Linked DNA regions of Homo sapiens: region 1 is linked to region 2. The links come from fine-mapping of genetic effects on plasma protein levels. A gene starts in region 2. The other region holds a variant in brackets. All regions are shown on one strand. Distances are between the middles of the regions. Region 1 overlaps PAQR5 (progestin and adipoQ receptor family member 5). Region 2 holds the start of GLCE (glucuronic acid epimerase).

Evidence for each region. PIP is the posterior inclusion probability: the model's chance that the variant is causal. Protein levels are from the aptamer-based SomaScan assay of Sun 2018.
Region 1: its variant is fine-mapped to the plasma level of the GLCE protein (Sun 2018, PIP 0.95).

Annotation. Positions count from the first base shown.
Region 1 is chr15:69,406,753-69,412,124 of GRCh38, reverse strand. PAQR5 (progestin and adipoQ receptor family member 5) reads right to left here. Exons shown (of 9, transcript NM_017705.4): 9 at 4,345-5,372. All of the region lies in intron 1 of KIF23-AS1 (KIF23 and PAQR5 antisense RNA 1), which reads left to right. Among named protein-coding and RNA genes, the nearest start is that of KIF23, 4.9 kb to the left of the region's middle. The variant T/GTGTT (reference allele first, on the strand shown) is at 2,902.
Region 2 is chr15:69,157,556-69,162,928 of GRCh38, reverse strand. GLCE (glucuronic acid epimerase) reads right to left here and starts at 2,294. Exons shown (of 5, transcript NM_015554.3): 1 at 2,172-2,294. It also overlaps the pseudogene LOC100421574. RefSeq lists silencers at 1,915-2,024, 2,225-2,434 and an enhancer at 2,132-2,632.

The sequences.
Region 1 (5,372 bases), 250 kb before region 2:
CATCCAAAATACGAGTTTAAATACTTTTATTTTTCACATTTTGGTTATTTTTATTTGTATATGTTTTGTGACAGCTTGGAAAAAATTTCAGGTAGACAGATTAATCCGTCTTTTCTTTTATGGCTTCTGTTTTGTGTCATACTGGAAAAATACATCCATTCTGAGTTTTTTATTTTATTTCTCATTTTTTGTTTCCTAGTGCTTTTATTGCTTTGCTTCCTATGTTGAAGTCTTTGAATGATTAGGACTTTGTTGTCAAGCTAGAGTTTGGTATTTTGTTGGTTTGTTTGTTTTGTTTTGTTTTTTGAGACGGAGTCTGTCACGCAGGCTGGAGTGCAGTGGCGCAATCTCGGCTCACTGCAGCTTCCGCCTCCGGGGTTCAAGCAATTCTCCTGCCTCAGCCAGGCTGGTCTTGAACTTCTGACCTCAAGTGATCCACCTGCCTCAGCCTCCCAAAGTGCTAGGATTACAAGTGTGAGCCACCGCACCTGGCCTAGAGTTTGGAATTTTTATCATTTAGGAATTGGGCTTGGTTGCTGACTACTTATATCCTAGTTGCTCTTCAGTTTAGCTTCTACCTCAGACTCCATTGGAACTCTTGTCACCAAAATTACCACTTCCTTGATGCTAAATCTATTTGACTTTTGTCTTACTTGGCTTCTTAACAACACTAAAAAATGTTGCCCATTCCTTTCTTCCCATGCCTTTATTTTTTCTCCTAGCTGTCTAGCCCTTCTTTCTCAGTCTCCTTTGTGAGTTCTTTTTTTCTCCCTTAAATGTTGGGGCTCAGGGTTTAGAGCTGGTCACTAGGTGTGCCTTTTCCCTAGGCACTCTCAAGCACTCATATGGCTTCACATCCCATTCATGTTTGCTCTTCTGAGCTCCAGAGCCATATATCCAGCTGTCTTCTGGATTCTCCACTTCGATATCCCACAAGCATCTCACATCTAACACATTCTAATCTCTTCTCCCAAACTTGCTCCCTCTCAGTGGATGGCATCCACCAAGCCAGAGTCTAAAGCAACATTGTTAGCTTTTCTCTCTTCTTCTGTCTCAATATTCAATCACTAAATCTTAACAGTTCTACCTACTAAGTAGCCAAACCTCCAAACTGCTCCACTTTTCTCTGTCTCCTCAGCCACCATCTTCTCTTGTCTGATAAAGACAGCAGTCTCCTAACAGGCCTCTCTGCTGCCACTTTCCAATTCAGTTTCCATTTTGCTCATCTCTAAATCATGGATCTGATTATGTCACATACCTATATGAAACTCTGCAGTGGTTCCCCATTGTTGGAGACCCACCACAGGGCCCTGAGACGCTTCCTCTGGGGCTCATCACCCATCACTGCCCCCTGTCCCCTCTAGTCATGTTGAACTGCAGTGCCCTGAACACGCTGGGCTCACACGCCATTCTCTGTGCTGTCACGCTCTCCTCCCTCCTTTCCTCTGACAATGCCTTGCCTTCAGTTCTCTGCAGATCTGCCAGCTACCCTGCTGTGGATACTGGGCCCCGTGGTACAGCCCCCACGCCCCCAAAACTGCCCTTTCCCACTCACTGCACCTGTTGACTTGTTTCAGCACTCACATTCCAATTGGCAGTCACTGTTCATTCCTGTCTCCTCTACTGGCTTATCCCCACAGCCTCACTAGATGGCATCGTTGCATGCCCAGTGCCTAGCAGTGCAGGTGCCCCATACATGGCTTGAAGGGATGAATGAATCATCCCTTCAAAGAACGCTCCAGTTGAGGACCCAGTTACATCGCACCACCTCCAGCTTCTCTTCAGGCCAGTTTCTTCTTCCTCCCTCACTTCTGTATTAAAGTTCTCTGGCTTATTAATTTCCTTAAAACTACCAAATAATTACATCATTTTTCTATTCAAAAATAGCAAAGGGCTACCTATAGCCATTAAAAGATTTGCATTTTACCATAGAATTAGAGATCCAGATCAGGAGTGCGCGTAGGAGGGTGGGGAGAAGAGAACTGAGGGGCTTTTTTCTTTCTAAAGTCAAGTATTTTAGGTATAATTTACATACAGTAAAATGGACCCTTTTTAGTTGTATCGTTATGTGTATTTGACAAATATATAGTGTGCTGTAACCACAATCAAACGTATATTTCCATCACAGTGGAAAATTCTCTGGGCTGCCCCTACTCCCAGGCCTTGGCAACGACTTTTCTGATTTTCTTCCCTATACTTTTGCCTTTTCCAGAATGTCTTTTCTTTCACTCAGCATAATGCTTTGATATTCATCAATGTGTTGCATGTACCAGTAATTTGTTCCCTTTTTGTTGCTGAGTCTATTCCACTGTATGAATGCAGGACAATTTATTCATTCACCAGTTGGACATTTAGGTTGTTTCTACTTTCTGGAGATTATGAAACTGGTATAATTATTTGTGTAAAAGTCTTTATGTAGGTGTGTTTTTATTTCTCTTGGGTGGGATTGTGGGTCTTACGGTAAGTTTAACTTTATTAGAAACTGTTAAATTGGACCAGGCGAGTCTTATCCAAATCATTGAAGAGGGGCTGACACTACACAAATTCGAAATCATATATTAATCCAAACACCCAGATAAGCAAGTCCAGCTGTGGGAACCCAGTAAACACCAATGACCAGAAACTGCTGAAGCCCCGAGTGTTTGAGGGGAGGTGGTAAAATGGAGACAGCACTGCCTTGGGATCTTGGACATGCTCCGCACACTGTTCCCTCCCAGGCCCTGCTGGTCACTCAGTGGCCTTAGAAACATTGTCTCAGGTTCCCAGGCCATGAATCTCTCTCGCCAGGCCATTTGTAACATGAATGGTTAGATGTTAATGTTTACATACAGAAAACACAAATTAATAAAATCAACCTGGGGATGTGTGTGTGTGTGTGTGTGTGTGTGTGTGTGTGTGTGT[T/GTGTT]GGGGAGTTGGGGGACTGTAAAATTTACACAAAAAGAAACAAATGACTTGAACTATATTTCAAATAAATAACATACACAGAAAGGGGGAAATAACCCAGGTAACTGTGACTATTTAGAATCAAGCTTGCCCTCAGGGTCAAGACAAAAAAAAAAAACTTGAAACGTTTTGAATTCTAATTAGTAGGCACAGACATTAGTTGGTAATTCTGAAACAACATTCTGTACATTCTAGGATTGAGCAGATAAAATGTATCATGGGCTGGGTGAGGTGGCTCATGCCTGTAATCCCAGCATGTTGGGAAGCTGAGGCAGGTCTATCACTTGAGGTCGGGAATTCGAGACCAGCCTGGCCAACATGATGAAACCCTGTCTCTACTAAAAATGCAAAAATTAGCCAGGCATTGTGCCACGCGCCTGTAATCCCAGCTACTCAGGAGGCTGAGGCAGAATCGCTTGAACATGGGAGGCAGAGGTTGCAGTGAGCCAACATCGTGCCACTGCTCTCCAGCCCGGGCAACAGAGTGAGACTTCGTCTCAAAAAAAAATAAAATAAATAAAATAAAATAAAACATATTGTGGCTAATGGCAGTCAGCTTTCTCACTGTTGGAAAAGGGAGGAAAGGAGAAAAGGTGAAAAGTACCTGGGAATTCTTTGCACTATTTTGCAACATTTTTCTAAGTCTGAAATTGTATTTAAAAATGGTTGGACTATATCAGTGCTTCTGAACTCCCTTATATTAAAAATTACCTACAGCTTTAGCTAAAAATTTGAAACTACAGGATCACCTCCCCCACTGTGGGTAGTCTGTGTCAGTATGTTTGGGCCTGAGAATCTGCATTATACATCATCGAACAAATTTTAAAAGGGCTGAATTAAATGATCTTTGAGGGCCTTTCCTTCTGTGTTCTGGAGGAGGCAAAAAAATTCAGCCTGTTTCAGAAATCTGTTGCTTAGCATGAAGAGAATGAGCGTGGCAACTGTCTGAAGTTAATTTCTTATGAGTTGACACATTCCATACAAGTACCAAGAGACATAGGAAAGCCCTATAGGCAATTTCTCAAGGGAAAAAAAATCAGGAAAATCTCAGAATTCTTCAAAAATCAAGTCATCCAGATATCTTCTGGAGTTAACATCCTTCCAGTAGAACAAGTACCTGCCAGCCTTGGGACCCCTCTACTTAGCTCAACCTGCAATCCCTTCCCCCGACAAGCTGACAAGGCTGGCTCCTTTTTGCCCATCAAGTCTTCCTCAAATGTCAGCTTATCAGAGTGACCATCAATTCACATGCCCTACTAGGCTTAGTTTCTTTACAGCACTTATTATCTGGATTCATCTATATATCCTGTCTGCCTGCCCAACCAGAACACTAGCTTCATTAGGGAGGGACATTGCAGGTTTTTTTCACTTGTGTATCCCCAGTTCCTAGGACAGTGGCCATTCTATACATCCTAAGCACTAACTATTCATTGAATGATTTACTGATACACATGTGTACAGGGATCTGTTTCTCATGGTGAATTAACATATTTGCAGTGTGGTAGATAAAACATAACCAAATTAAGTGGCAAACAGGATGACTTTATGATAATAAATAAATTCTGTTTATTTTTTTCTCTCACATAGTTCAAGAAAACCAGACATTAGTGTAAGTTGGAGAACATCTGAGTTTGGAAACAGGTCTTTGCCTTAATGGATTGTTGACTAGAAAATCAGAGGCCGAAATTCAAATAATATGTTTTGAAGTGTTGTTGTACCGTGTTAATAGGTGTTTCATATAAAAAGGGTAGCATGGACTGGGTGCAGTGTGGCTCATGCCTGTAATCCCAGCACTTTGGGAGCCTGAGGCAGACAAATCACTTGAATTCAGGAATTCTAAGCCAGCCTGGGCAGCATGGCAAAACCCTATCTCTACAAAAAGTTAGCCAGGCTTGGTGGCATGCACCTGTAGTCCCAGCTACTCAGGAGGCTGAGGTGGAAAGATCACTGAAGCCTGTCAGGCAGAGGTTGCAGTGAGCCAAGATTGCAACACTACACTCCAGCCTGGGCAACAGAACAAGACCCTGTCTCAAAAAATATTTTTTTTAATTAAAAAATGTTAAAGGGTACCATAAGGTACAAAATAGTGTCAAATGAAGGGTTTCTTGAACATATCTGACAATGCCATTCTACTACACCGCACCTACCTCAGAACCTCTCATATGAGCAAGTTTCTACTGGGCGGGGCAGCAGGGGGAACAACACTTCCAGAAAGACTTCAGCAGACCAAATATTTAAACCACTTTATACTCAGAAGACCTCTAAATTTCCCATAACATCCTACCAACAATTACAAATTCTTTTTTTTTTTTTTTTGAGGCAGGGTCTTGCCCTGTTGCCCAGTCTGGAGCGCAATGGCGCAATCATAGCTCACTGCAGCATCCAACTCCTGGGTTCAAGCAATCCTCCCACATCACCCTCCACAGTAGCTGG
Region 2 (5,373 bases):
GATCAGAAAAAATGACATCTTTTAAAAAAAATTGTATCTAAGAGGCCTGGCATGGTGACTCACGCCTCTAAATCCCAGTACTTTGGGAAGCTGAGGCTGAAGGATCACTTGAGGCCAGGAGTTCAAGACCAGACTGGGCAACAGCGCAAGACCTTGTCTTTAATTAATTGAATAAATAAATAAATAAAATTAGTGAGGCGTGGTGGCACATGCATGTAGTTCCAGCTCCTCTACTGGGGGTGGGGATGGGAAGCTGAACTGGGAGGGCTGCTTGAGCTTTGGAGGTCGAGGCTGCAGTGAGCCATGGTAGCGATGCTACAACCTAGCCTGGAAGGCGGAATAAGTCCCTGTTTCAAAAGAAACAAACCAAAAAACAAGAAAAAAAAAAAACTGACACGAAGAAAAAGACTAAGGCAGGCAAAATTATTTGCTTTGGTATACTCAAATTTGTCTGTTAACCCCAGATTACATATTTACAGAACAGCTCTGAGTACGGACTTCACTGCCTGCCACATTAACTTTCATATACAGGCCTCTGTGATAGAGTAACTAACCAAAAGAAATGTCAGGCAAACACATAGGCTTTCTCACCTATACGCTGTTTTTTTTTTTAACCAATACACATACATACAAGTCATTTTATTTAAATCCCACCTACGCCTACGCTAGTTACCAAAACCTCTGTAATATCCAAGGCTAAATACACTTTTACAATACAATGAAACTGTTAAGCAGAATTCTCTAAAAAAGCTCGATTAACCATCCTTACAGGTCACAGAAAACGTTTTTGCAGAGTTCTAGCTTTGGGATTTCAAATTCCATTGTTTTCTGGAGGCTGAATTTGACGTTATCCCTCTCTACAAATGCTTTTCAAAGGACAGAAAGAAGCCAGACAGAACACGCTTCCCTGCACTATCCGACTCTGCCTAACATTCACTCAGGCAAGACTTCAGAACAGATCTAATCATGCAGGATGAGCAAAGCAGACCACCACCTAGGAAAGCAAGCCAAAATCAGTCTTCCCCACCCTCAACAGATTCCAGTTGCTCAGGAGCTGTATCCACGCTCAACCTGCGGACACCGGCCTCCTAAAGAACCTGCAGACCAAACGCCCACCTAAGGTGCTGCCACTCTAGCTCCCGGAGCTCCAGCGAGACCAGCGCGCCCCCACAGGGATCCCGGGGCAGAGAAAAGAAAACTGCAGAACAAACGCACTGCTTCTTCAACTAGGCAACAACACCGATCAATCCTCCAACTAAGCATTGAGTAAATCTCATCCAGAGAGAAGGAGACCTGAACAAAAACGTTTCAGGATGCTGCCCAGCCTGCGCGGTAGCACCAAAGCCCTCTCCCGCCCTCAGCGGACCCAGCGCCTGCGGAGCCGCGCCCACCCCGAGAGACTGCCCGGGGGCCAGCTAACTCGCCCCGTCGCCCCCAAAAGACTGGAGACCATGCCAAGTTACCGCCCCGCTCCGGGCAAAGCAGAAACCCCGGCCAGACGCTGGTCGCCGCTACACACCCTCAGCCCCCAACAACCCCCCAAGGCGGCCCCGGCCCCAGCGGAACGGATACATCGCTCTCTCACCCGGAGACACCGATGAACAGACCCCTCTCCCCAGAACCCGGACACACTGCTTCTTCATCCCAGCAATGCGAAACGGACGCCCACGCCCGCTCAAAGAACCCCCAAGACCCCGATGATCTGCCTCCAGAGACAAGGTTTACACCGGTGTAAACCTTGCTAAACTGCATTCTCTGCCCCAAAGAGCTCGGGACCCGGGTAAAAAGACCCCTTGTCCCGGAACCCCGCTACACCACCTCCAAGAAGCTCAAGACCCTGATAAATCTCCCTCGACGTCAAAGACCTAGGACCCCGTGTGCCGCCACCCACCCCTACCCCAAGCCGGAAGAGCCCCCAGGATCCCTAATACATTGCCCCCTCACCTCGGGAGCTCCGGCACCCGCTACACCGCCCTTGGGCGCCCGCGCCCGGATCCCACTGCACCGCCTCCTCGCCCCCCGGACTCCCAAACCCCGCCAAGCCTCGCGCCCACCAGGCAGCGCCGCGCAGCCCCCAGAGCCGCCCCCGTCAGGAGCCCGCCTGCTCCGGCTGCTCCGTGTCCCCGCTCCCCGACCGCTCCTCAGCGGAGACGCGCTCCGGGCTTTCTAACCTGAGCAGCGTCGGAGGGCGAGCAGACACGGGAGCCCTGAGGAAGAGAAGGAGACAGCAGAGAAGGGGTGGCTCAGGCCTGCGGTGCCGCAGCTCCAGCCTCTCGGCAAGGAAGCGCTTGTGTGAGGAGAGCCCTCCCGCTCCGCGCGCAGCCGGGAGACCGAGCCACCGCCGTGCCCGCAGCTCTTCCCGCGAGATCCCAGCCACGGCAAGGGGCGGGGCCACGGCGGGGGGCGGTAGCGGCAGCTCCTCGAGTGACAGTCCTGGCAGCCTGTCGGCTGCAGGACGGGCGGCAGGACTCGGAGTCTACTACGACCAATTGTAAAAAAGGAAAGGTGATTCTCCCCGCCCCTTCTCCGCCCCTCTTCTTCTCCGCTCCTCCTTAATAAACTGTGAGCAAAGGTAGTAGTGACCAGAAGTAGTAGGAGGCAGTGGACTTTCGCGGTAAGGTAGCTCGAATGACGTGACGTGCTTGGCTTGTGTGTGGTCCTGCTAGGCCGCCGTAGATACACCTGGTTTGGGGAAGAGGCTGGTCTTCACACCGGTGTAAACCGAGGTGCGGTTACCCTTGGTTACAGCGCTGCCCGAAGTGCGCTGGGGATTCCCATCTTCCAGGTTGAAGGCCCACCCACTCCGGTTACCCGCGTCTAAACCTCCATTTAATTCCTTTCCCCGATTTGGGCCTCTCCTCCCTCTCCACCTCAAACAGGGCACCATTGTTAAGATGCCCATGTTTTCCAAACCCCAACCCAGGACATCTGGTCTGACAAAGAACTCGTCTGATGACTGTATTTATTTCTACATACAGCCTTCCAGAAGAATGAAAAGCAAATCTCGAGTTACCAACATAACAAATTCCAAAATTAATGAAAAGTCGTACCTTTATAGACCCCAGTGCCCAGTAGTATTTGGCACACCCAGGGCACTGAATAATGTGAAAGGAATGAATTAAGACTGTTAAATATATGCAAATCTCGAGTTACCAACATAACAAATTCCAACATTACATGAAAAGTCGTACCTTTGTAGACCCCAGTGCCCAGTAGTATTTGGCACACCCAGGGCACTGAATAAGGTGAAAGGAATGAATTAAGACTGTTATACTTAAATATATTAAATCTGGACCTGGCCCCAGAAAATTCGGCTTTCCTAGCCTTTCCTCTATAATGTGAGCCAGTGGCTTCACCCTTAAATCCAGGCTCTTCATTATTATGCCTATCCTGTACCTTCATTCATCTTACCCTCTTCACTCCCTCACCCACAGCAAGAAGTGCCCTTTCTCCTCAAGGTTAAATCTTGCACCTGTGCCCTGGATCCCAGCCATTCCCAGATTTTATTCAGCTATTCTTTCTTTCCCCATTATTAATTTCTTCCTCTAACCTAAATCTTTCTCCCACAAACATAGTCTCGCCCATCCTTTGAACAGAACAAAGCCACCCAATCTCTTCCACCCAAACTACCTTCTCCTTTCTCCTAGGAATCACACTTCTTGGGAAACATTATATTTGCTGCTGAGCACTGTGGCTCATGCCTGTAATCCCAGCACCTTGGGATGCCAAGGTGGGAGGATTGCTTGAGGCCAGGAGTTTGAAACCAGTCTGGGAACATAATAAGGCTCCCCTATATGCAAAAAATAAAAAACTAGCCGGGTGTGGTGGCACACACCTATAGTCCCAGCTATTCGCGGTGGGGGAGGCGGGGTGCTGAGATGGGATGATCGCTTGAGTGTGGGAGGTTGAGGCTGCAGTGTACTGTGACCAAGCCACTGCACTCCAGCCTGGGCCACAGATTGAGGCCCTGTCTCTAAATAAATAAATAAAAGTATACTTGTTGTCTCCACTTTCTCATCTCTTATTTTTCCCACTACAGCGTTGCTTTTGCTCACACAATCTGCTATTCTTTCAATGGTTACAAAAGACCTCTTACCTTCTAGAATAATGGTCTATTTTGGGGTATCTTTCTCATGACCTCTCTCAGCTTATTGACAATGCTGACATCTCTTCCCTTAGTAGCTGCCTAACTACATTCTCCTGATTCTTTGGCAACTCTTCTTTTTTTTTTTTTTTTCCCTGTCCCTTGTCCTGGTTTGAAAACTTGCATATTTATGTCTCCTTATCTTATAGCCACACCTTGTGCATAATATGAAAAATGGCCACACACAGTTGCACACTTTGAGTGCCAATAAGTGGCTGAGACAAAAGCTGTTAGAAGAGTCCAGAGGAGGAGACATGGCTGTGAGGCTTGAGCTGGGTCATAATGAAACACTACGTTGGCCATATAAATCCAAGGCAGAAACGGAGGCCTTTCAGAGGAGAAAAATAATGTGAACCTGAGCACAGAGAAAAGGATGTGGGCTGAGCCTGGGCTGTAGGTCGACAGGTTTGACAGATAGAAGATTCCTGCAGAGAGTAGCGGGAGGTAAGATTAGAGAAAAATCAAATAGTAAAAGGCCTTAAAAATCAGGCCAAGCCGATTTGACTTGGATTCCATATTAAATGGGGAGCCGGGACCAATTTTAATATTTGTAGGGACCATGAGAAGGCTACACATGGAGACCCACATACCAAATGTCTAAATATGTGAAAGTTAAAAAGCTAACAAATGGAGTACTAAAAGCATTATATCCTTTCACCTTGACAAATGTACTTTCATAACAACTTGGAAGACCCAGTTTGAATTGAGAATTCTGAGACTTCTCAGAGCTCCTTGCTGGAACAAGGCAGGTCAGAGAGAACTGCTCCCCACATGGAGCAGCCTTTACCCTTTGCTTCCCATGGCCCCTTCAGCCCTACAGTGCCAGGTACCCTCCACTCCATGAACGCACTAGCCCACATGTCCAAGCTCTGTCTTCACTTTCTCCCCTCCAAAACAGTCATTTCTTGGCTATTCCACAGGTCCAGGGGTGCATATCTCAGGATCTAGGGGAGAAGCCTATGCAGGCTCTGGAAGTGGCTCAGAGCCATTTGGGCAGGGAATACTGGCTCCTGGGTACCTGATGTGAGGTCTGAAGGGGTACAGTCACCTCCAGGTGGACACATTTCTTGGCTTAATGGACTCCTCAGATGTAGGAGCACAGCTGGGGAAGAGCCAGAGCAGAGCCTTTAAAGGGAAGCCCTGCCTGTCTGCATCTAAAGGTGGTAGCAGCAGAGCCACTGAATTTCTTGGTAGGGTAATGACATGTAGAGTTGATCTATACCTTGAAG